7 linked regions of the Homo sapiens genome follow. The protein of the gene in region 1 purifies or fractionates together with the protein of each later gene. This does not show direct contact. Each region holds a gene or a part of one and is shown in the gene's direction. Other genes may lie near its edges. The genes, in order: ARPC3, CLUH, GALT, LRCH2, CHURC1, ARPC4-TTLL3 and SYNGAP1.

Region 1 (3,008 bases):
GCAGACGGAAAAGGAGACTGAGGAGACTGTGCATTTGGAGAATGGGAGTTTTGATGTGATAGTGGCTGTCCTACCACTGCATTCAGCAGATAATCAGAAGACAAAGATGGAATGCATACATTGCACATCATTGTTATGTTTTGATAACTGTTTTTAAGTCTTCTTTTTCTCCCTGTAGAATGAAGCTGATAGGACCTTGATATATATAACTCTCTACATTTCTGAATGTCTGAAGAAACTGCAAAAGGTAATTAAACTTGGATGATTGTATATCAGGAAAACAAATTGCTGAGAGGCATTTACCCTCCCAGTCATCTGGGATTTGTTGAGACTTTAAAGACAAGTAGAAAATATTTCCTCTGACTTACAGCATGGACTTAAGAGAAAAATTTGAATTTAGTTACCTGAACTTGTAGTATAATTGACTGACACAAAGATAAAAGTAGTGGTGTTTTAAGGCTTTGAATATATTTTCTCAAGACAGAAATCTTGACAGAGGAATTCCTTTTAAGCCCTTGACTCAAGGGTTCTTAACCTGGGGTCCAAGGATAGAATTCTTCTTTTCCCTGTAAAATATGTGTGTGTGTGTGTGTGTGTGTGTGTGTGTGTGTGTGTGTGTATATATATATATATATTTTTTTTTCCAGTGCAATTCCAAAAGCCAAGGTGAGAAAGAAATGTATACGCTGGGAATCACTAATTTTCCCATTCCTGGAGAGCCTGGTTTTCCACTTAACGCAATTTATGCCAAACCTGCAAACAAACAGGAAGATGGTAAGAACAGGTCTCTATCCTCACTCTGTGACACAAGAAGATTTTCTCCATTTGACTTCCTACCACCCCTCTTTTTCTTGCCTTGATTCATGTACAGATTGAGAGTGAAATCATAGGAAGTACATTATCTTATTAGTCACTCTCACAAACGATTCTTGGCAACAAGGATGACATGCAGAAAATCTTTTGAACAAAAACAAATATAGTTATAAAACTATCTGGACTGTCATTTCTATTTTGTATCCTGTTCAAATGTATAAAAATGTATTACCACAGTGAGCATCCAGAGCTGCAACCAGTACATTTGGGATGTATTTGCAAATACAGTTTTTTTTAAATTGTTCTGTTTTAGAAGTGATGAGAGCCTATTTACAACAGCTAAGGCAAGAGACTGGACTGAGACTTTGTGAGAAAGTTTTCGACCCTCAGAATGATAAACCCAGCAAGGTAAGACCCTCTTCTTGCCTGCTTAATTGGTAAATCACCTTTTATCCCATAGCCACCATTGAACACACTAAGGTCTTCCATTGCAAGAATATTTTTAATTTCTGCATTGCAATGTTGCTTAACTTCCAGTATATGTCTAGTATGTAATATGAGTTCACTGAATCACACTAAATAATGAATTGCAGGCCGGGCGCAGTGGCTCACGCCTGTAATCCCACCACTTTGGGAGGCCGAGGCGAGTGGATCACTTGCGGTCAGGAGTTCGAGACCAGCCTGGCCAACATGGTGAAACCCCCATCTCTACTGAAAATACAAAAAATTAGCCAGGCATGATGGTGTGCACCTGTCATCTCAGCTACTCAGGAGGCTGAGACAAGAGAGTCGCTTGAACCCAGGAAGTGGAGGTTGCAGTGAGCCAAGATCATGCCATTACACTCCAGCCTGAATGACAGAGTGAGACTTTGTCTAAAAAGGGTTTATGGCCAGGCGCGGTGGCTCACGCCTCTAATCCCAGCACTTTGGGAGGCCAAAGCAGGCGGATCATGAGGTCAGGAGATTGAGACCATCCTGGCTAACATGGTGAAACCCCGTCTCTACTAAAAAATACAAAAAATTAGCCAGGCGTGGTGGCAGGCGCCTGTAGTCCCAGCTACTGGGGAGGCTAAGGCAGGAGAATGGCATGAACCCAGGAGGCGGAGCTTGCAGTGAGCCAAGATCACACCACTGCACTCCAGCACTCCAGCCTGGGCGACAGAGCGAGACTCCGTCTCAAAAAAAAAAAAAAAAAGTTTATAAGAGATTCCAGACTAATGTGAAATTTTATTATTAAATAAATGCAAATTCTATTGTAATTTGACCCCGCTGTTCATTCTGTGTTGTTCTCTCTTGTTAGTGGTGGACTTGCTTTGTGAAGAGACAGTTCATGAACAAGAGTCTTTCAGGACCTGGACAGTGAAGGGAGCCCGGGCAGCCACCGTCTCCAGAGCCCTGGGCAGCATTTTCCAGCAAGATGTACACAATCTTTTGCCTTTATTTCGTAAAGTTTTATACAGAAGAGAGAAGAGCATGTCTTTACTTGAAAAACTCTTGATCAAGAATTTGGGTGGGAGAAAAGAAAGTGGGTTATCAAGGGTGATTTGAAATTTTCTGCAGCATTAAAGCTGGCGCTTAATAAGAATAAGTAATAATAAAGAAATTTCTAACATTCCATGTCAGAAAAACTTTATTGCCAGTCTTTGACATTCACTTACAATTTGTTTTGAGATAAAATTCACATTCCATAATGCCCTTTTAAAGTGTACAATTCACTTTTTTTAGTATATACATGAAGTTTTACAACCATCCCCAGTAAATCCAGAGCATTTTCATCACCCCGGTGTAGTGAACCTGCACTCTTTAGCAGCCACCCCACCCCACATTCCTCCCCAAGCCCCCTGTCCCTCCCACCCCTCCTCCCAGTATTAATCTACTTTCTGTCTCTATGGATTTGCTTATTCTGGATAATTCATGTAAATTGAATTTTTTATACAACATGTGGCCTTTTATGTCTAGCTTCTTTGACTTAATGTTTTCTAATTCATCCATGTTAGAGCATATATCAGTGCTTTCTTTTCTCTTTTTCTTTTTTTTCTCTCTGTGTATATGTATGAAATAAAATATACTAATATGGCCAGGCGCAGTGGATCACGCCTGTAATCCCAGCACTTTGGGAGGCCCAGGCGGGCAGATCACCTGAGGTCGGGAGTTTGAGACTAGCCTGACTAACACGGAGAAACCTGGTCTCTACT
Region 2 (3,500 bases), on another chromosome or scaffold:
GCTGACCACCAGCCTCGGGTCCCTCAGACAGCGGGAAGCGGAAGAAGGGCTTGGAGATGGACCCCATCGACTGCACACCACCCGAGTACATCCTGCCAGGGAGCCGGGAGCGGCCACTGTGTCCCCTGCAGCCCCAAAACCGTGACTGGAAGGTAGGATCCTGGGGGAGGGAGGAAGAGGGTCCCTGGCGGGGTGGAGGCCCCACACCAGAGGCCTGGCCCCTCAGACTCGGCCGCTCCCGAAGCCCTTGCAGTGCCTGAAAGTACTCACCATGAGCGGATGGAACCCGCCCCCGGGGAACCGGAAGATGCACGGGGACCTCATGTACCTGTTTGTGATCACAGCCGAGGACCGGCAAGTCAGCATCACCGCGTCCACACGGGGCTTTTACCTGAATCAGTGAGTCCCTGCCAGCCCACCACACCCCCCTGCCGTGCCAGCCGTCCTGGGTCTGGGCAGACACCTGGGCCCCCGCTCAGTGCCCGCCCTCTCCCTGCAGGTCCACAGCTTATCACTTCAACCCCAAGCCCGCCAGCCCCCGCTTCCTAAGCCATTCCCTAGTGGAGCTGCTCAACCAGATCAGCCCGACCTTCAAGAAGAACTTCGCTGTGCTGCAGAAGAAAAGGTAGTGCCTTTGTCCCCTCCCGCCTTGTCTCATGGCACACGGGGGCATGGGGTGAGCCGGCCCACCTGCACTCCAGTGCTTCTGTCTGAAGAAACCGCCCTGGGCCCCCAGTGTTGGAGTCCCCGCTCTAGGGAGCTGTCGGCCAGTGCCGAGACAGCAGCCGCAGGAGAGGCGCCCGTGCACTTCCATCTGGCTCCAGGGCAGTGTCTCAGGGTGGGAGATGCCGGAGCAGGCGGGGGCCTCAGAAAAGGGGCCCGTGGAAGGGCTCTGAGCTTGGTGGGCTGCCCCATCTCCCCCTCCCCTGCCTGCCACAGGGTCCAGCGCCACCCGTTCGAGAGGATCGCCACCCCATTCCAGGTGTACAGCTGGACAGCCCCCCAGGCGGAGCATGCCATGGATTGCGTGCGTGCAGAGGACGCCTACACCTCGAGGCTGGGCTATGAGGAGCACATTCCTGGACAGGTGCCTGCAACCTGGCCCTGCCCTCGCTGGGCACCCCTGCCCTCCTGGGTGCTGGGCTGGTTCCGTGCACTTCCCTGGAGGCCCCATGCTTGACTTCATTTGGGAGTCTGGGGCTCTTCTCAGGAAGGTAGAAGGAGCGACTTCCGGGAGCAGGTCACAGGGCACAGGCTGAGCTCGTTTTTCCCTCCCTGATCTCTCTGCAGACCCGAGACTGGAATGAGGAGCTGCAGACGACGAGGGAGCTGCCTCGCAAGAACCTGCCTGAGCGGCTGCTCCGAGAAAGGGCCATATTCAAGGTGCCTGCAGCCTCTGCTGACCGGCAGTCTGAGGCCCGCTGTCCACCTGCTGACGGGTTTTCTCATGGAGAGGAGGAAAGCAAGGGAGGCAGGGGCAGCCCTAACCCTGTCAGGTTCCCCGAAGGCCAGTCAGCGTCTCCCGCAGGGTCTGCTAGCCTTCCGCCTCCCAGCAGACCATCCCAGTACCTTTCTCTGGCCTCTCTGAGGCTTTGAGTCCCTGGAAGGAGCGGGCCCTACTTCCCATAGGGACTGAGTGTCCAGGGCCGTGCAGCTTCCCGCCCTCTGTGACTGCTGCGGGGCTTTTGCCTGGGCGAGCACTGGCCGGCCATGGCCCTTCTAGGGCGGGTGCTCATTTGCATAACACTTTTAGTTTGCTGGGGTTTAAAAGTTATTAGTGCTGGGTTACTAAGAGAAATGAGGAAAAGCAGTTGCTTAAGAAAAAAAAAATCTCAGGCCGGCTTCAGTAGCTCATGCCTGTAATCCCAGCACTTTGGGAGGCCGAGGCGGGCGGATCACAAGGTCAGGAGTTCAAGACCAGCCTGGCCAATATGGGGAAACCCCATCTCCACTAAAAATACAAAAATTAGCTGGGTGTGGTGGCGCATGCCTGTAGTCCCAGCTACTCGGGAGTCTGAGACAGGAGAATTGCTTGAACCCAATAGGCGGAGGTTGCAGTGAGCCGAAATTGCATCACTGCACTCCAGCCTGGGCGACAGAACAAGACTACGTCTCAAAAAAAAAAAAAAGAAATCTCAGCCAGGCACAGTGGCTCACGCCTGTAATCCTAGCACTTTGGGAGGCTGAGACAGGCAGATCACTTGAGCCCAGGAGTTGGAAACCAGCCTACGAAACATGGTGAAACCTCGTCTCTGCAAAAAATACAAAAGATTAGCCAGGCATGGTGGCATGTGCCTGTAGTCCCAGCTACTCGGGAGGCTGGAGTGGGAGGATGGCCTGAGCCAGGGGAAGTCGAGGCTTCAGTGAGCTCGGATCTCGTGCCGCTGCATTCCAGCCTTGGCAACAGCGTGATACCCTGTCTGAAAACAACCAACCTCCCATAGTTATACTGCCTAGAGATGATAATTGTAGAAACAAAAACTCATTTCTCGGGTACCGACTTCACCAGAGATGGTGCCAAGTGCGTTATAGAGACTATTTCCTATAATATATTGGACAACTTGTAAAGGTCAATACCTTTATCTGTTCAAGTTCACCTGGCACATAACTGGTGGATCCCAAACCTGCGCACGCTTGTTAATCACTAAGCCCTGCTGTCTCCCTCAGCACAAGTGTATTCTCAAAACATGGGGGTTTTGGTTTGTTTGCGCTTTTTTAGAAATGGAGTCTCACTCTGTCCCCCAGGCTGGAGTGCAGTGGTGTGATTTCGGCTCACTGTAACCTCCACCTCCCGGGTTCAAGCAATTCTCCTGCCTCAGCCTGTCGGGTGGCTGGGACTACAGGCGCGCGCCACCTCGCCTGGCTGATTTTTTTTGTATTTTTATTAGAGATGGGGTTTCACCATATTGGTCAGGCTGGTCTCGAACTCGTGACCTCAAGTGGTCTGACCGCCTCGGCCCCTCAAAGTGCTGGGATTACAGGTGTGAGCCACCGCGCCCGGCCAAAACATGGTTTTCTTGCCCTTTTCTACATATGAGGAAACTGAGGCTCCGGGTCCTTGGGTTTCCAAGGCAGGCCCGGTTGCCTCCGCGGTCTAGGTGCGTGCGCTTGGCCAGGTGGATGCAGGCTCTTGTGGGCGCGGCCTCTAACCCTGCCCTCCTCGACCCCCGCCAGGTGCACAGCGACTTCACCGCGGCAGCCACCAGGGGCGCCATGGCCGTCATTGACGGCAACGTGATGGCCATCAACCCCAGCGAGGAGACCAAGATGCAGATGTTCATCTGGAACAACATCTTCTTCAGCCTGGGCTTCGACGTCCGAGACCACTACAAGGACTTCGGGGGGGACGTGGCGGCCTACGTGGCGCCCACCAACGACCTGAATGGCGTCCGCACGTACAACGCGGTGGACGTGGAGGGGCTGTACACGCTGGGCACGGTGGTGGTGGATTACCGCGGCTACCGGGTCACGGCCCAGTCCATCATCCCCGGCATCCTGGA
Region 3 (4,269 bases), on another chromosome or scaffold:
AGACAATATTTAGATGGCTCTTTAAAAGTACTGGGGGCCAGCTGTTTGGGAGGCTGAGGCAGGAGGATCACTTGAAGTCAGGAGTTCAAGACCAGCCTGGCCAACATGTGAAACCCCGTCTCTACTAAAAATACATAAATTAGCCCAGTGTGGTGGCACACAGCTCTAATTCCAGCTACTTGGAGGCTGAGGCAGGAGAATCGCTTGAACCTGGGAGGTGGAGGTTGCAGTGAGCCAAGATCACGCCACTGCACTCCAGCCTGGGTGGCAGAGTGAGACTCTCTCTCAAACAAACAAACAAACAAAAGTACCAGGGGAGGAATTAATTTGAATTTTATCCTAGTGTTAGCCAATTGGTCCCATCCAAGGAAAATTTAGAAAAGGGAAGGGGATGTGTAAAGGAAACACTAGGCCCCACCTAGATGGTGGCTGGAGCTTCTGATAGTCCTGTACTCTCCACATTTTTAGACTTTCTTGTACTTTTTTTTTTTTTTTTGTGACGGAGTCTGCTCTGTCGCCAGGCTAGAGTGCATGGGCACAATCTCGGCTCACTGCAACCTCTGCCTCCTGGGTTCAAGTGATTCTCCTGCCTCAGCCTCCCGAGTAGGTGGGACTACAGGTGCACGCCACCAAGACCAGCTAATTTTTTTTTTTTTTTTTTTTACTAGAGACGGGGTTTCACCATGTTGGCCAGGATGGTCTCAATTTCTTGACCTTGTGATCCGCCTGCCTTGGTCTCCCAAAGTGTTGGGATTACAGGCGTGAGCCACCGAGCCCGGCCATTTTTAGATTTTTTTTTATAGCCCTTTTACCCCTCCCACTTCTTGTGCTGTCTTGGTGTGTGTATGAAAAAGAGAGAGAGAGAGAGAGGAAGGAGAGCAAGAGTGAGAGAAAAAGAGAATATGGTTACTTAGCCCTTTTTCCCAAATCTGTTTTTGCTTTTGGGGATAGGATATGGTTATGGTGAAGTACTCCACACAGACCCCACCAAGTTTGCCTCTCCTGCGCTACAGCCACTGAGCAGGTGACTGAGGCGCTGTTGATCCAGGGTCATATCCTTACTCGCCCTAGAATGTAAGCTCAGGCAGGGCAGAGGCCATGCCTGACATGTGCATCCCAATGCTTTACACAGCCTAGGTGCCTAGCACATGCTAGATGCTTGGTAAATATTTGCTGAATGAAAGATCAAATGAATGATTGCAGCAAGCAAGTCCTGTAGGCATCCTGGAGCCCAAGGATTCTGCAGTAGGCAGCTTTCACAGAGGTTCTTCCAGTGTAGTGGCTCTAGCTCTGGGTGAAGTAGGATCATCAATGTCGGCCCCCAGGGTTCACAGCTGTTCTGAGCCCCGCCCCCAGGTGGCAGGGCAGCCCAGTCAGTCAGTCACGTGCTGGCGGCTGGCCAATCATCGGGGGCGGCGCGGGGAGGGGTGGTGTGGACGGAGAAAGTGAAAGGTGAGGCACGGCCCTGCAGATTTTCCAGCGGATCCCCCGGTGGCCTCATGTCGCGCAGTGGAACCGATCCTCAGCAACGCCAGCAGGCGTCAGAGGCGGACGCCGCAGCAGCAACCTTCCGGGCAAACGGTAACTGCACCGCGGCAGGGACTCGCTGGGGCGCGGAGCCGAGCCCTCCCCTTCCTTAGGAAGCTTTCGTCCCCTCCGAAGGTTGGAACGCTCATCCCGAGCCAGACCGACAAGGCGTACAGTCTGCAGGCCTGTACGAGCAGCAGGCCAATTGGCGCTGGGAAAGTCCAATCCTGGGCCTCTAGCTCCTGAGCGGGACAGGGCCGAGAGGGCGCTCCCGAGCTTGGGCCTGCTGGTGGGTGAGACCCAGGAGAGAGGGAGCTAGAGAGCTCTGAGGACTGATCTTGACTGTCTGCCCCCAGACCATCAGCATATCCGCTACAACCCGCTGCAGGATGAGTGGGTGCTGGTGTCAGCTCACCGCATGAAGCGGCCCTGGCAGGGTCAAGTGGAGCCCCAGCTTCTGAAGACAGTGCCCCGCCATGACCCTCTCAACCCTCTGTGTCCTGGGGCCATCCGAGCCAACGGAGAGGTAAGCCTGTAGAGCCCTGCATCTGCAGGCTGGGCCACGGGGAGTAGTTCCCTCTTAGAACTGTCCTCCACCCACAGGGATAGTGAACCTCCTTCTGGGTCATATCCCACCAAGCTTTTTGGTCCCCTAGGGTGGGCCTTCCCTACTCCCTTGTAGCCTGTCCAGTCTTTGAAGCCCACCAGGTAACTGGTGGTATGGGGCAGTGAGTGCTTCTAGCCTATCCTTGTCGGTAGGTGAATCCCCAGTACGATAGCACCTTCCTGTTTGACAACGACTTCCCAGCTCTGCAGCCTGATGCCCCCAGTCCAGGTAACCTGGCTCCAACTGCTGCTGGGGAGGAGGGTGGCTAGACCTCTTGAGGGACTTCTGCTGCAGAGAGTGATACTCCTTTACCTCAGGACCCAGTGATCATCCCCTTTTCCAAGCAAAGTCTGCTCGAGGAGTCTGGTAACTATGGATTTCCCCTCTTACAACTTTCAAACCAGAGTTGGAGACTCAGCATTGGGGTTCGGCCCTGCCCGTAGCACAGCCAAGCCCTACCTCTCGGTTATCTTTTCTCCCGTCACCACCCAGTAAGGTCATGTGCTTCCACCCCTGGTCGGATGTAACGCTGCCACTCATGTCGGTCCCTGAGATCCGGGCTGTTGTTGATGCATGGGCCTCAGTCACAGAGGAGCTGGGTGCCCAGTACCCTTGGGTGCAGGTTTGTGAGGTCGCCCCTTCCCCTGGATGGGCAGGGAGGGGGTGATGAAGCTTTGGTTCTGGGGAGTAACATTTCTGTTTCCACAGGGTGTGGTCAGGAGGGAGTTGACTTGGTGTCTTTTGGCTAACAGAGCTCCGTATCCCTATCTGATAGATCTTTGAAAACAAAGGTGCCATGATGGGCTGTTCTAACCCCCACCCCCACTGCCAGGTAAGGGTGTCAGGGGCTCCAGTGGGTTTCTTGGCTGAGTCTGAGCCAGCACTGTGGACATGGGAACAGGATTAATGGATGGGACAGAGGAAATATGCCAATGATGTGGAGGCTTGGAGGTAAAGGACCTGCCTGTTCTTCTCTGCTTTTGCCCCTTGACAGGTATGGGCCAGCAGTTTCCTGCCAGATATTGCCCAGCGTGAGGAGCGATCTCAGCAGGCCTATAAGAGTCAGCATGGAGAGCCCCTGCTAATGGAGTACAGCCGCCAGGAGCTACTCAGGAAGGTGGGAGAGAGCCAAGCCCTGTGTCCCCAAGGAGTCCCTAACTTTCTTATCCCATGAGAGAGGTGTGTAAAGGAGAAAGCTAGAGGTGAACTAGTAGAGAGAGACTTGCTAGGAGGCCTTAGCAATAATCCAGTAATCTAAAGGAAAGATGATGGTGACTTAGACTCGGGTGGTTAGTGGTAGAGGTGGTGAGAAGACATCAGATCCTGGGCACATTCTTTTCTTCTGCTTCCCTTGCCTATTTGCTGACCACACTCCGGCTCCTATGTCACCTTGATGACTTCCTATCCATTCTGTCTTCCTAGGAACGTCTGGTCCTAACCAGTGAGCACTGGTTAGTACTGGTCCCCTTCTGGGCAACATGGCCCTACCAGACACTGCTGCTGCCCCGTCGGCATGTGCGGCGGCTACCTGAGCTGACCCCTGCTGAGCGTGATGGTCAGTCTCCCAAGTAGGATCCTGGGGCTAGGCACTGGATGGAGGTTGCTCCCAGTAGGGTCAGCATCTGGACCCCAGGCTGAGAGTCAGGCTCTGATTCCAGATCTAGCCTCCATCATGAAGAAGCTCTTGACCAAGTATGACAACCTCTTTGAGACGTCCTTTCCCTACTCCATGGGCTGGCATGGTGAGGCTTTTCAAGTACCTATATTTAGCCCCAACACCATTTCTGGGCTCCTGGGGCTCAGCCTAGTGAACTGCAACCTCAAAGGAGCAAGCCTTGAAACAGTTGCTGGGGGAAGTGGCCAGAGTAGAGATGCTGGGACTGAGGGTGGAGCAGCAAACTTGGTGAAACTACATCTCCAATGTGCTTTCTAATCTCCTGCCAGCTCTTCTCAAGCAGGGGATCCTGGGAGATGTAGTTTTCAGATACCTGGTTGGGTTTGGGAGTAGGTGCTAACCTGGATAACTGTAAAAGGGCTCTCTCTCCCCACTGTCTCTCTTCTTTCTGTCAGGGGCTCCCACAGGATCAGAGGCTGGGGCCAACTGGAACCATTGGCAGCTGCACGCTCATTACTAC
Region 4 (3,500 bases), on another chromosome or scaffold:
GTGAAACAATATTGAATAAGGAGAAATTAATACATTTCAAAATAAATGGGGGAAGGTTTTTTTACATTAAGATGAAATAGACCCCTGGTTCTCCACCCTGGCTGCACATTACAATTGCAAGGGAGATTTTTTGTTTGTTTTTTCAACCCTGCCTGGATCCCACCCTAGACCAATTAAATCAGAATCTCAGGGGCCAAGGAACTTAAGGAAAAAAAATCTTCCCAGGTAATTCTAATATGCACTCAGGGCTGAGAAACCCTAAAATTGTTTATTTTTTAAGCACTCAAGAAATATTTGTTCTTTGAGTGAATAAGAACATTGATAAAAGTTTAGTTATTAACCTTAAAGCCACTTGTCAAGAAAGTCAAAACCAAAACTAGGAACTAAATACTCAAAAATTGTTTCAAATTGTTTGATAAATTTACGTGAAGAAAATGATGCCCCCTAAACATGTAGCAGCAAAATCTTTTCTCTGCTAACAGGCTTCCTATGAGGGAAAATGTATTTTAGGCAGCTGTTTGCAGAGTTTATCTTTGGTGTCTTTTTACCTCTCTCTGCATTTCTAGTGTCTGTTCTTCACTTGCCTCCTCCCTTTGTCCCCATCACACTTTTCTCCTTTCTCTTTCTCTCTTCAACCTCACTCCTCTTACTTTATTGGGATAGAGCTCAGGTAAATGATTATGGCAGCCTCTCTAGGAGATTAACATTTAAAAGGGGGAGTTTGCTAATTTACTTGAATCTCCAATTGGTGATTGGAGATTCATGACCTTTTTGAGTAGATCTCCCTTCCAGATACTCCTTGATTAAAATTTTCACCCACATAAGGACATAAAACAGTGATCAGAAAGTTGGTAACCCATTTCAGTAAAGTAGCTGACTCTTGCTGTAATGTCTTCTCCGAGATGGTCTGTAGATAGATTTGACAAGATGAAGGGAAATTGCATAGAACTTTTTGGTCCATCTGGATACTATGATAATTTGTTGACTTGAAAGTGAATTTAATTGTTACCCAAACAAATCCTGAAACCTTGCATAGTTGACTCTGTCACCAGTGCTACAAATAAGTGGATATGTTTCAGCGTACTTGCTGCTGCTCCCTCTGCTTCTTTATACCTGTTTATGTACATGAGCAGTAGGTCTGTGAAACAGATTTAGGAATTCTTACATCAGATTCTGCCGTGTCCTGGATAATCACGTGTTTTCCTGTAAACCAGGAGTCAACTCTAGTATTTCCTACATGTGCTGGTTCACCTTTTCAACTGTAGGGCATGGTGCATTGTATCAGGTTGTAAAATGGAGCCAGATAAACACAGCATTTGATTTTGTGAGGTGAAGGTCCTCTCAGTGCATTTAGTGGAATGAGCTCATGATTGTGATTTTGTGGCCTTATTCAAATATCTGCCTTGCTTCATTTAATAAATGTCTTCCTGAAAAATCGAATGTGAAGCACATTTTTGACAGTTGACTCATATTTTAATTGCTATAGATTGAATCTGAATTACTGAACCTTGTACTGATTTATTCAGTGATAAGTTCTACAGCATACTTATCCCTTAATTTCTTTCATTTAAAATAAAATGTTATCTTTAATTGAAGGGTACATTCATCATTAAGATAATACCATTTATACAGCTCTTTATACATTTTTAAGTACTTTCATATATATTATCCTATTGTATCCTAATAATAACCCTGTGAGCTTGGCAGAGTACATAGTAATTGCTCGTTGTGGTTGAGAGACAGGTTAAGTGATTTGTCCAAAGTTAAATGGTGAGTCTGGCAGAGTGTGTGGGTCAGAGCCTAGGTTTTTCAACTCCAGTGCTATCCTAATGTTATTTCCAGTGTAACACATTCTCTCTTTATAAAAAAGCAGTTATTAAACACCATGCCAATAAATAGGTTATTTATTCTGAAAATTCAATGCTTATTTAACTTCGTAGGTTATATACTTTTTGTTTGTGGTATGGTGTGTTTTGTTTTGTGTGTATTTGCATAGCTATCATGCCTCTCTTATGGTTTTAGAATAGATTCATTAAGCAAGCATTTATTGAACTCCTACTTTGGAAACATGATTATGGCTAATAAAAAGAGACATGGTTTTTGTACTTAAAGGATTTATACAATAGTCAAATGTATACAGTAATATAACCATTAGAAAAGAATTTCACTATAATATATAATAGTATTCAAAATAATATATTTTAATATACTGTACACATAAGAGATCTGGAACTGTGGCATAAGGCTTAATTTTAGAGGGGATTAATTTAGTTTGAGAAAGCTTCCTGAAAAGTTAGGTTAGGTATTTGTTGCATGACAGGTATAAGAACAGAAGTGGTTGATTGGGATGTTTTAAAATTGGGGTTAGTGGAATACTTTTGCTTAAGGTTTAAATTTAATATTTCAATTTAGATTATTTGTGATATAAATTCTGAAGCATTTATTTGGCATGAAGGTAGACAAGATCCAGAACCTCACTGAGAACATAAGAAGTAATGCTAGGGACACTTACTACAAATAAAGATAATTGAAGACTTACAAAATTGATTTGCTGGGAGGTGCCATTTGTTTAAGTTCCTAGGCACACAGTGAAACTTTGCAAAAGAGGCATCTTGTTCTCCCAGCCCAGCCTAGCAGCCCACTCTGTGAGATGCCTTAACTGCATGATACACACCTCCCCATTCTGCAGAGGCTAGTGATCATCATGACCTAGAAAGGGAAATATTTTAGTTTTCTTTTTTTCTCTACACTTTGAGTGTATTTGGGTGCTTCTTAAAACATTGTAATACTCTTATAATCAGTTATCTGGAAAGTTTCAGAAAGGGTTGTCTGCTTCTCATTTACAGAAAAAAAAATACCTTACACGCCAGGGAACCATTTAATGTAATTAAAGAAAACTGTATAAGCCAATTTAATAACAATGTAAGTTTATGTTTACTCTCACTTTCAGCTAGTGCACTCAATCTGCTAAAGGTCAAACTGTAATGTTTAATCTTTACATTTCTCTTGTTTCATGTAAATAGATAGCATTCCATTAACAGAATACCTGTCAATGGACTGTAATGGATAATTCAACAGTAGATATTTTCTAATGTATTTTTTATATCAAATTCTTTGAGGAAAAGTTTTTTCCAAATAGGAAAGTAAGTTCTTTCCTTTTCAGGAACACTTGATTCTGTGTAGTCTTTTCTAATTTGTGACAGAGAATGTTGTCACTTTATTTTTAGATTAATTACTTGTCTCAGTAGAATATTAGAGATTCAAGGTGACAAGAGACAGGTATAAGATAACTGTGACATAAACTTTTCTTTGAACCATATGGAGATGAACTGATTCTAGAACATTTGTGAATTTGGATTTCACTCAGAAATGGCTTTTTGTTAATGATTATGTTCCTAAGAGAATCTAGTATGTATAGTCTAGAGTTTTTCACTTCTTAAAAAAATAATTGCAATACGTAAATCCTTAGTATTTTGAGCTACTTGGTTGGGGATGTCTAT
Region 5 (3,500 bases), on another chromosome or scaffold:
ACTAACTATAAAAACTATAGTAATCAAGAGAGTTTGATATTAGTGGGAAGGTAGATATATGTATCAAGGGAACAGAATAGTCAAAGCAGACCCACATATATATGGTCATTGACTTTTTTCTACAAAAGCACCATTGTAATTCAGTGGGGGGAAAGACAGTTCTTCAACAAATCTTGCCAAAACAACTGGAAATCCATACGCAACTAAATAAACCTTGATCCTTACCTCATATATAAAATTATTTCAAAATGGATTATAAACCTAAATCTACAAACTAAAAGCTATAAAACTTCTAGAAAAAAATGTAAGAAACTTTGTGCAACCCTGGGGTAGGCAGAGATGTCTTAGGAGAAAAAAAGTATAAATTATAAAAGAAAAAATGTTAAATTGGACTTTATGAAAATCAAAACTTGTTTGCTCATTAGAAGAAACCATCAAAAAAGGCAAATCAATGACGGAGAAAATATATTTGGGAAAAAACTTGTATCTAAGATATATAAAGAACTCTTACAACTCAAAATAAACAACCTAACTTTTTGAAAATGGGCAAAAGACTTGAATGGACATTTCATAAAAGAAGATACATGAATAAGCACCATGAAAAGATGCTCAACATCATTAGTCATCAAGGAAACAAAAGTTAAAACTACAATGAGATACCACTTTACGTCACTGAATGGCAAAAATAAAAAGCAGTACCTAGTATTGATGTAGCTATAGAGCAACTGGAACTCACACATTGCTGGCAGGAATGTAAATTGGAAAACCATTTGGCAGTTTCTTGTAAAGTTAAATATACCATATTTTTACCATATTAGCAATTCCACTTCTACATATTTACCCAAGGGAAAGGAAGACATGTATCCATCCAAGACTTGCACATGAATCTCTATAGCTGCTTTATTCATAATAGCCCCAAATGGAAACAACCCAAATATCTACCAACAGCTGAATCCTACAGGGAATACTATTTGGCAATGAAAAGCAACAAACTACCAGTACCTAGAACAACAGTGATGATGAACATAGGCATTATATCGAGCAAGGAAAATTGGATGCGGGAGTATACTGATTCTGTTTATATAAAATTCTAGAACGTGCAAGACTGGAGATGGAAATCAGATCAGTGGGTGTCTGGGGTGGGATGGAGGTTAGAGATAGACTGAAAAGCATGAAGGAACTTTTTGGGGTGGATAGAAATGTTTTATACCTTCACTAGGGTAGTGGTTACATGGGTATATACATTGGTTAAAAGTCATTCACCTATGTATACCCTTACAGTGTGTGAATTTTATTGTATGTAAATTGTACCTCAGTAGATTTTATTAAAAAAAAAATCAAAGGCTGGGCACAGTGGCTCATTCCTGTAATCCCAGCACTTTGGGAGGCCGAGACGGGCAGATCACGAGGTCAGGAGATCGAGACCATCCTGGCTAGCATAGTGAAACCCCATCTCTACTAAAAATACGAAAAATTAGCAGGGCGTGGTGGCGGGCACCTGTAGTCCCAGCTACTTGGGAAGCTGAAGCAGGAGAATGGCATGAACCTGGGAGGTGGAGCTTGCAGTGAGCCGAGAGTGTGCCACTGCACTTCAGCCTGGGTGACAGAGCGAGACTCCGTCTCAAAAAAAAAAAAAAAAAAAAAAAATCAAAGCAAAGCATTTGTTCTTAATAACTGGAAATGTATACTTTAATCCTAAGGCCCTTTTCCCTTTTAGTAGTTAAGGCAGTACACCTATGATTTAATAACTATGTAGTAATGTCTTGATTTCTCCCACTAGAATTAATGTCTTCCTCAATACATAGAAGGGAGAGATTCCTCAATATATAGAAGGGAGAGATTAATTCTCCCACCAGAATTAATCTCTTCCTCAATACATAGAAGGGAGAGATTAATTCTGGTGCTTGGAATCCAGAAAGACTTCCTAGTGGCATTATTTATGGTGGATCTTAATTTCGCTGATGCTTCTTAAAACTCCTTGAAGGTAGCAACATGTTTGGCTCATCTTTGAATCCTCTGTTGTGCTTTGCACAATATCAGACACAGATGCACTGGAGAAACGTTGATTTGAGTGATTTTTAATCACATTATTTAAAAATACTCTTTAAGTGTGTTGCTGAGAAATGGGATTGGACTAGATTATTTATAAAGTGACTTTTAATTATTAATTATTAGCCTTTAGCAAAGACTTCCTTTGGGTCGGGGACGGTGGCTCACAACTGTAATCCCAATACTTGGGAGGCTGAGGTGGGAAGATCATTTGAGCCCAGGAGTTTGAGACCAGCCTGGGCAACATAGCAAGACCCCATCTCAATTACCAAAAAAAAAAAAAAGGCTTCCTTTGAGCCAGGAGCATAAGTTATTTAGAATTTCTTTTTTAAAAACTTTTTTTGAAAATTTGTATAGTTTCTTAGTAAAGATGTAAAACCCATTCTCTCTTAAATGCCATTGTGTCAGTCTTACGAAATGAAGAACTTAAGCTTCTCTGCCTCAATCATGTGTATCCTTAAGGACTGACATCTATAGAGCTGAGAGTTTACTTTTGTTTATTTTGTATTATGATCAAGGATCAAAACTATTTGAACAAACAACTAAACATCTATGTAAGATCATCTTTATCATTGACTCAGTTTCTATTTTGATTGAATTTAATTTTAGTTGGTAAGCCTCGTTTAATATTGTTGGTTATTAAATTTTTCTAATTTTCTATTTTCATATTTTATATTAAGGTTTCCTTAAGTTGTTTCTAAATATCTATTTTCAGTTTATCCTCCCTTTTCAACATAGTGGCAGTCCTTACAGACTTAAGGATCTAACACTGCACTTTAGTTGCTTTTTTTTTTTTTTTTTTTTTAACATGAGTAACACTTCTTTAGGAAAGCTAGTAATTTCAAAAATTATTTGGTATATGACCTAGAAGTAAATGCTGGCCATTTTTTAGTTTTGTTTTGCCTTTAGACATTTTAAGTCTGTTAATCATCTTCACTAAAGATTTTGAAATGTAAAGAAATTAAATTCCTGTTTCTGATATTTTAGGGTAATACCTGCCTGGAGAATGGATCTTTCTTACTGAACTTTACAGGCTGTGCAGTGTGCAGTAAGCGGGATTTTATGCTGATCACAAACAAATCCTTGAAAGAAGAAGATGGAGAAGAAATAGTTACCTATGATCGTAAGTAGACTTTATTTTTTAACCTGAGTGTGTTAGCAGGTGTCAGCTTTTGGAAGTCGATATGTTACACAAAATATTCTGAGGCCTATTTCAATATTGTATTGCGCACATAATTACTAGTTAGGTCTTTAAGAGGAAAATGTCATTAACACCTCATTTATCTGGGATATCAAATAGTCTATGTAAATGACTTTTGCAGATAACTAAAGCTTACGATTCAGGAACTGAATTTTTTTTGTTTATCAAATTATTTTTCACGGACATATTTTTAAAAGCTTTATGCTGCCTTAACAAGATATACTTTTTATTATTGTTATTATTGTGACCT
Region 6 (3,154 bases), on another chromosome or scaffold:
ATCATTTCTTAAATTAATATATTGGCGTTTTGGTTTCAAAAAATGTAAACGGGGAAATACATGGGCAGGAAAATATGAGCAAGCTGAGGGAAAAGGTGCCATTGTAGTGCAGTGCTCCCAATGCCAGTGCCCAGGCCAGAAGCATCTGAAAGCTTCTAAAGGTATGGATGTGAGGAGGCTCCACCCCCAGAGATTGACCCAAAATGTCTAGCTTGGGGAGGAGACTATGTATATCTGCATTTTTCAAATGCCCCCCAAATATCTTTTTTTTTTGAGACGGGGTCTTGCTCTGTTGCCTAGGCTGGAGTGCAGTGGCACCATCTCGGCTCACTGCAAGCTGCGCCTCCCGGGTTCAAGCGCTTTTCCTGCCTCCGCCCCCTGAGTAGCTGGGACTACAGGTGCCTGCCACCATGCCCGGCTAATTTTTTGTATTTTAGTAGAGATGGGGTTTCACCATGTTAGCCAGGATGGTCTCGATCTCCTGACCTCGTGATTTGCCCGCCTCGGCCTCCCAAAATGCTAGGATTACTGGCATGAGCCACCGCGCCAAGCCCTCTAAATGTCTTTTATTGCTGATTTGTTCTTGTTTTTGTTTTTAGGCCAGCACATAGTAAAGGCTTATACCTTGCACTGTTTTTTTTTGTCTCTTTTCATCTAGGCCAGCCCCAGTGCCTTTTGACCCCATAGTTTTGATCTTTTGAGGGGCCAGGCGGGTTGTTTTGTAGAACTGTCCCACATTCTGGATTTATCTGATTGTTTCCTTATGGTGTGATTTACCTTGGTCTTCTGTTAGCTGATTGTCTCAGGAACTAGAAGTTAGGTCAAATAGTTTGATGAGGTTAAACATTTTTCCCAAGAGCACTTCAGAGGTGATGCCGCGTACCTCATGTGGCATCACAAGGCACATCCTGTGAGAGTGTCTCACAGTTAGTGCTGCTGAGTTTGACTGTGGGTTACAGTGGTGGCTACCAGATTCTCTCCATTATAAGCTACATCTCCCCTTTGCAATTAATTTTTCTGTAAGGTGCTGTGTTGGCTCTGTCCAGATTACACATTTTCCTGTCATCCTTTCATCTAATTGTTTTGATACCAGTTTTGATTATTGCCTATTTTATTAGAGTTGCAAAATGGCAAATGTCTAATTCTGTTGTTCCTTCTGCATTTATTAGCTGAGATTCTTCTGTAAAGATGAACTTTCCCTCATCATCTGGGGCTACTTGGGAGTGCTGATAGCTACATTTTTATTTGATTTTTTTTTTTTTTTTTTTTTAGACAGAGTCTCACTCTGCCACCCAGGCTGGAGTGCAGTGGTGCTAGCTCGGCTCACTGCAACCTCCGCCTCCCGGATTCAAGTGATTCTCCTCAGATCCCGAGTAGCTGGGATTACAGGCGCCCACCATGGCCGGCTAATTTTTGTGTTTTTAGTAGAGATGGGGTTTCGCCATGTTGGCCAGGCTGGTCTCCAATTCCTGACCTCAGCTGATCCGCCTGTCTTGGCCTCCCAGAGAGCCACCGCGCCCGGCAATAGCTGCATTTTTTTTTTTTTTTTTTTTTTGAGACGGAGTTTCGCTCTTTTCACCCAGGCTGGAGTACAATGGTGCGATCTCGGCTCACTGCAACTTCTGTCTCCTGGGTTCAAGCAATTCTCCTGCCTCGACCTCCCGAGTAGCTGGGATTACAGGTGCCTGCCACCATGACCTGCTAATTTTTTTGTATTTTTAGTAGAGACAGGGTTTGGTTATGTTGGCCAGGCTGATCTCGAACTCTTGACCTCAAGTGATCTGCCAACCTTAGCCTCCCAAAGCTCTGGGATTACAGGTGTGACCACCATGCCCGGCCAATAGCTGTATTTTTAACAAGCTCCAAGTAATTCTGATGTTTAGATAGATTCTGATCAGGATCCTTCAGTGGCACAGAAGATACCTCCAACTGGCTCCAGGTTGCTAGCAAGGCACAGGGAGCTCTCCTGGAGCCCAGCTGAGGGCAGGACATACAGCTTGGCCTGATAGGAACTGAGAGTTGTAAGGGAGTCCCTCTCCTGGACCCTTCTCTCTGCCTTCCTCTGCATATTCGTTACTTCATTCTCTCCACAGACTGTCTTCTTTAAGGTTCTTAGTTTCTGCTACCCCATAACCTGGATTCACACGAGGCTCTAGGCAGGCTCCAAACCTCTTACTTGTCTGGGTGGCGTAACTCAAATTCTCTGTGCAGAGAATCTGATTGGCTCAGCTCAGGAAGCTGTCCACCAGCAGTGGCCTGTGCAGTGGAGCCACACGCATTCCAGCAGGGGCTGGGGGCAGCTTAGGAGGGAAATGTGGCTGAGGGGTGCTGGTGGGACATGGCTAGGATTCCCCCTTCCTCTGGGCTAGCAATTCCTGGAGCTCTGTGACTCTAGGTACTGACTCAGAGGTGGGCTTTCCATTTCTCAGCTCAGAAACGCCTCTTTGACCAGGTGCCTCAGAAAGTAATTCCACCCATCTCTACTCTGGGTCCCGCTGGGCCAAGGATTCCAGTACCACTGACTGAGTGGGCCTTGTCTCCTCTTCTTGCCCACAGCCTGCTGTGGAGGTGCCTCAATATGTGGGCATCCGGCTCCTGGTAGAGGGCTTCACCATCAAGAAGCCCATGGCGATGTGTCATCGGCGGATGGGGGTCCGCCCAGCAGTCCCTCTGCTGACCCAGCGAGGCTCTGGGGAAGGCAAGGACTCGGGGACCCCTACCCACAGGTCAGCTTCTAGGAAAGGCACTGGGGCCAGGAGCCTGGGGCACAGTGAGAAGCCAGTCTCCACTGCCACCACTTCAGCCCCCGGAAAGGGGAAGAAAGGCAAGGCGAAAAGGGCCACAGCCCTGGTCTGCCCCAATCTCTGGGAGTGGGATGCCCCCAGCACCAGGATGGGCTGCATTTTCACCATGACCTTTTCTAGTGGGGACAGGCAACCCCACCACTTGAACAGATTGCCACTGAGTCCGAAGAACCCCCGGGCCCTGGGTAAGACCATTCCCCCAAAACACCCGAGTGTTCCAAGGCGATTTATTCCTGCTCTCCAGGCCCCTCCCAACCACCTGGATCAGCCACCCCACCAAAGAGCCACCAGTAGCAAGTAAAAGCCACTACTCACAAAGTATTGTTTAAAAATACACAGCCAAATTAGCT
Region 7 (3,500 bases), on another chromosome or scaffold:
GTATCTCTGTGTCTCCAAATCTCCCTCTCCATATAAAGACACCAGTTTTTATAAGGTGGGTTAAGGGTCCACTCTAATTCAGTATGGCCTCTTTTTTTTGAGATGGAATATCGCTCTTGTTTCCCAGGCTTGGAGTGCAATGGCATGAGCTCAGCTCACTGCAACCTCCGCCTTCCAGGTTCAAGTGATTCTCCTGCCTCAGCCTCCTGAGTAGCTGGGATTACAGGCACGTGCCACTATGCCCAGCTAATTTGTTTTTGTATTTTTATTAGAGACGGGGTTTCACTATGTTGGCCAGGCTGGCTCGAACTCCTGACCTCAGGCAATCCACCCACCTCGGCCTCCCAAAGTGCTGGGATTACAGGAATGAGATACCATGGCTGGCCTCTTCTTAGTTTGATTACATTTGCAGGGATCCTGTTTCCAAATAAGATCACATTCACAGGTTCAGGGTAGACATGAGTTTTGGTGGGATACTATTCAACCCAGTACACCGTCTCACCTTATGATTGCTGTCTGTATCCCACTTTCTTACTGTCTCTCCTCTTTTGGTGTCTCTCTGTCCCTTCCCCCTTTAACATCATGCCCACCCCACCATGCCAGGACAACAGCCGCCGGGTAGACAATGTGCTAAAGCTGTGGATCATAGAGGCCCGGGAGCTGCCCCCCAAGAAGCGGTACTACTGTGAGCTCTGCCTGGATGACATGCTGTATGCACGCACCACCTCCAAGCCCCGCTCTGCCTCTGGGGACACCGTCTTCTGGGGCGAGCACTTCGAGTTTAACAACCTGCCGGCTGTCCGTGCCCTGCGGCTGCATCTGTACCGTGACTCAGACAAAAAGCGCAAGAAGGACAAGGCAGGCTATGTCGGCCTGGTGACTGTGCCAGTGGCCACCCTGGCTGGGCGCCACTTCACAGAGCAGTGGTACCCTGTAACCCTGCCAACAGGCAGTGGGGGATCTGGGGGCATGGGTTCGGGAGGGGGAGGGGGCTCGGGGGGTGGCTCAGGGGGCAAGGGCAAAGGAGGTTGCCCGGCTGTGCGGCTGAAAGCACGTTACCAGACAATGAGCATCTTGCCCATGGAGCTATATAAAGAGTTTGCAGAGTATGTCACCAACCATTATCGGATGCTGTGTGCAGTCTTGGAGCCCGCCCTGAATGTCAAAGGCAAGGAGGAGGTTGCCAGTGCACTAGTTCACATCCTGCAGAGTACAGGCAAGGCCAAGGTGAGTGTTGTGCCCTCAGGGAAAGGTGACTTGGGAATGGGCACTTGCTTGGGGGTTAGTGAGGACAGGGCAAATTCACGAGATTGGGTTGTGCAGAGGCTGACACTTGGATTTTCCTGGGCCTCAGGACTTCCTTTCAGACATGGCCATGTCTGAGGTAGACCGGTTCATGGAACGGGAGCACCTCATATTCCGCGAGAACACGCTTGCCACTAAAGCCATAGAAGAGTATATGAGACTGATTGGTCAGAAATACCTCAAGGATGCCATTGGTATGGCCCACACTCAGGCCCTCTTCTTCCCAAACCTGCCAGATGTCCACCCCAGACCCCAAGTCCACCCTTCCACAGCTTGATACTTCCTAACCCAGAGTCCTAGGACTCCAGCCTCCAACACCTGATTCTGAAATTTCCCCAACCCTGGCCACCCCCTTCCCTGCCCTTGGAAAGTGTGACCACACCCTCTTGTGCCCCCACCCCCCAGGAGAATTCATCCGTGCTCTGTATGAATCTGAGGAAAACTGCGAGGTAGACCCTATCAAGTGCACAGCATCCAGTTTGGCAGAGCACCAGGCCAACCTGCGAATGTGCTGTGAGTTGGCCCTGTGCAAGGTGGTCAACTCCCACTGGTGAGACTGGGAACGCTGGGCTGGGGGGCCAGGGTCGGGGGAATTATGTGTTCATCTGTTCATCTATCTGTCCATCCTCAAAGAGGACTGAGCACCATTTATGGGCAAAGCATTGTTCTAGGCGCTATAGAGCAAACAGGTGAAAGAGGCCTGGTCCCTGCCCTCAGAGGGCCTCCACCAGAATGGGGACAAATTAGAAGAAAAAAAAAAAAAGCCACAGAGCCATAATGGTGTGTAAGTGCTGAGTAAGGGTCCCCCCAACCTCTGTGTGACATAAGGTCAGAGAGAAGGCAGAGCTTTGAGATAAGTGGGGAAGAGGTGCCCCCTTGGGTAGGCTTTGAAGACTGGTTTAGGTTCTGATATATGGACATAGTTGGCAAGAAAGACATTTCAGAAGAAGGCTGTGAGAAAGGCACATGTGTGATGGTGAAAAGGCCCAGGAGTTTTCAGGGGACATTAAAGTAGGTTAGTAGCAATTACATCAGGTTTAGTGGAGCATGTGCCTCATAATGGGGAGTGGCGGGAGAGATGTCTGGGCAGGAAGATTAGCTTTAGAAACTGGAAGGCCTCAAGGAGTCTGAGGTCATTGGTAGGCCTTGGGATGCCATTAAAGGTGTCAGAAATATTGTGATTTAGAAGATTAATCCATAGGCTGGGCACGGTGGCTCACACCTGTAATACCAGCACTTTGGGAGGCTGAGGCGGGCAGACCACCTGAGGTCAGGAGTTTGAGACCAGGCTGACCAACATGGAGAAACCCTGTCTCTACTAAAAATACAAAATTAGCCAGATGTGGTGGCACATGCCTGTAATCCCAGCTATTCGGGAGGCTAAGGCAGGAGAATCACTTGAATCTGGGAGGTGGAGGTTGTAGTGAGCCGAGATCACACGATTGCACTCTAGCCTGGGCAACAAGAGTGAAACTCCATCTCAAAAAAAAAAAATTAATCCATAAGTAGAGTGTATGTAGTAGAGTAGAGGGATGTATGTTGGGGGATGACTGGAATAGAGCCAGCTGGGGGCTCGGAGGCATGAAAGTCAGATCCTGAATCAGAACAGTGACAGAAGTTAGGAAGGAGCTACTGGAAGGACCCTCTCGGGAAAGGATCAGTAGGAATTGTCAGCTTATTGGAAAGGAGGGAGCATGTCTGTGGGGAGTCACGGATGACTCAAGAGGCCATGAGGCTGGTGGTTGGGAGACCGGTGGCCTCATTGACAACCAGGAAAGTCAGGAGGAGGAGCCAGTTGGAGGTGTGGGGGCGATGGTGAGCTCTGCTTTACACCAGCCGAGTTTAAGGTGTCAGTGGGACATTGAAGTGGAACTGGGAGGTGCGGGGAGTGAGCTCTGAGCCATTCCAGGGACTGGGGATCATGCCTGGGGCACCTCCATCCCCATTTCCCTGGAATCCAGAAGAGTTGGGGGGTCCGAGCTCCCTGTACCTCAAGTGACCCTCCATCTCTCTCCCATCTCTGTCTCTCCCTGGTGTCTGTTTTTCTTCTCCTCCTCTCCTTGTCTCTCTCCCACACCCCTCCATCTCTCTCCCACGTGTCTCTCCCCTCACCTTCTCTCCCCCTCCATTTCTCTCTCCCTAATCTGTCTGTTCCCTCTGCCATGGCCCCCTTCTTCAAGCAGCCTCCCATCTTG

What was found.
Region 2: the proteins of ARPC3 (region 1) and CLUH purify together in Homo sapiens (affinity purification with mass spectrometry; 3 studies listed by BioGRID and IntAct, with this or other methods). This does not show direct contact.
Region 3: the proteins of ARPC3 (region 1) and GALT purify together in Homo sapiens (affinity purification with mass spectrometry; 3 studies listed by BioGRID and IntAct, with this or other methods). This does not show direct contact.
Region 4: the proteins of ARPC3 (region 1) and LRCH2 purify together in Homo sapiens (affinity purification with mass spectrometry; 3 studies listed by BioGRID and IntAct, with this or other methods). This does not show direct contact.
Region 5: the proteins of ARPC3 (region 1) and CHURC1 purify together in Homo sapiens (affinity purification with mass spectrometry; 2 studies listed by BioGRID and IntAct, with this or other methods). This does not show direct contact.
Region 6: the proteins of ARPC3 (region 1) and ARPC4-TTLL3 purify together in Homo sapiens (affinity purification with mass spectrometry; 2 studies listed by BioGRID, with this or other methods). This does not show direct contact.
Region 7: the proteins of ARPC3 (region 1) and SYNGAP1 purify together in Homo sapiens (co-immunoprecipitation; one large-scale study listed by IntAct). This does not show direct contact.

What each region holds. Positions count from the first base shown.
Region 1 is NC_000012.12:110,434,323-110,437,330, reverse strand, and holds the end of ARPC3 (actin-related protein 2/3 complex subunit 3), read left to right. Parts: intron 1-178; coding exon 179-247; intron 248-647; coding exon 648-774; intron 775-1,126; coding exon 1,127-1,221; intron 1,222-2,113; coding exon 2,114-2,176; 3' UTR 2,177-2,508; downstream 2,509-3,008. UniProt on the Homo sapiens protein: Component of the Arp2/3 complex, a multiprotein complex that mediates actin polymerization upon stimulation by nucleation-promoting factor (NPF).
Region 2 is NC_000017.11:2,698,265-2,701,764, reverse strand, and holds part of CLUH (clustered mitochondria protein homolog), read left to right. Parts: intron 1-27; coding exon 28-152; intron 153-244; coding exon 245-399; intron 400-499; coding exon 500-625; intron 626-939; coding exon 940-1,087; intron 1,088-1,290; coding exon 1,291-1,383; intron 1,384-3,174; coding exon 3,175-3,500. UniProt on the Homo sapiens protein: mRNA-binding protein involved in proper cytoplasmic distribution of mitochondria.
Region 3 is NC_000009.12:34,645,206-34,649,474, forward strand, and holds the start of GALT (galactose-1-phosphate uridylyltransferase), read left to right. Parts: upstream 1-1,469; 5' UTR 1,470-1,499; coding exon 1,500-1,581; intron 1,582-1,883; coding exon 1,884-2,053; intron 2,054-2,286; coding exon 2,287-2,362; intron 2,363-2,451; coding exon 2,452-2,500; intron 2,501-2,626; coding exon 2,627-2,756; intron 2,757-2,909; coding exon 2,910-2,966; intron 2,967-3,128; coding exon 3,129-3,251; intron 3,252-3,556; coding exon 3,557-3,689; intron 3,690-3,792; coding exon 3,793-3,876; intron 3,877-4,204; coding exon 4,205-4,269. UniProt on the Homo sapiens protein: Plays an important role in galactose metabolism.
Region 4 is NC_000023.11:115,227,597-115,231,096, reverse strand, and holds part of LRCH2 (leucine-rich repeat and calponin homology domain-containing protein 2), read left to right. Parts: intron 1-3,500. UniProt on the Homo sapiens protein: May play a role in the organization of the cytoskeleton.
Region 5 is NC_000014.9:64,920,955-64,924,454, forward strand, and holds part of CHURC1 (protein Churchill), read left to right. Parts: intron 1-3,036; coding exon 3,037-3,172; intron 3,173-3,500. Other genes in the region: CHURC1-FNTB protein, read left to right, coding at 3,037-3,172. UniProt on the Homo sapiens protein: Transcriptional activator that mediates FGF signaling during neural development. Plays a role in the regulation of cell movement.
Region 6 is NC_000003.12:9,830,548-9,833,701, forward strand, and holds part of ARPC4-TTLL3 (ARPC4-TTLL3 fusion protein), read left to right. Parts: intron 1-2,556; coding exon of another isoform or gene 2,557-2,989; intron 2,990-3,154. Other genes in the region: tubulin monoglycylase TTLL3, read left to right, coding at 2,557-2,698.
Region 7 is NC_000006.12:33,437,065-33,440,564, forward strand, and holds part of SYNGAP1 (ras/Rap GTPase-activating protein SynGAP), read left to right. Parts: intron 1-298; exon of another isoform or gene 299-417; intron 418-603; coding exon 604-1,227; intron 1,228-1,266; exon of another isoform or gene 1,267-1,354; coding exon 1,355-1,499; intron 1,500-1,710; coding exon 1,711-1,855; intron 1,856-3,500. UniProt on the Homo sapiens protein: Major constituent of the PSD essential for postsynaptic signaling. Inhibitory regulator of the Ras-cAMP pathway.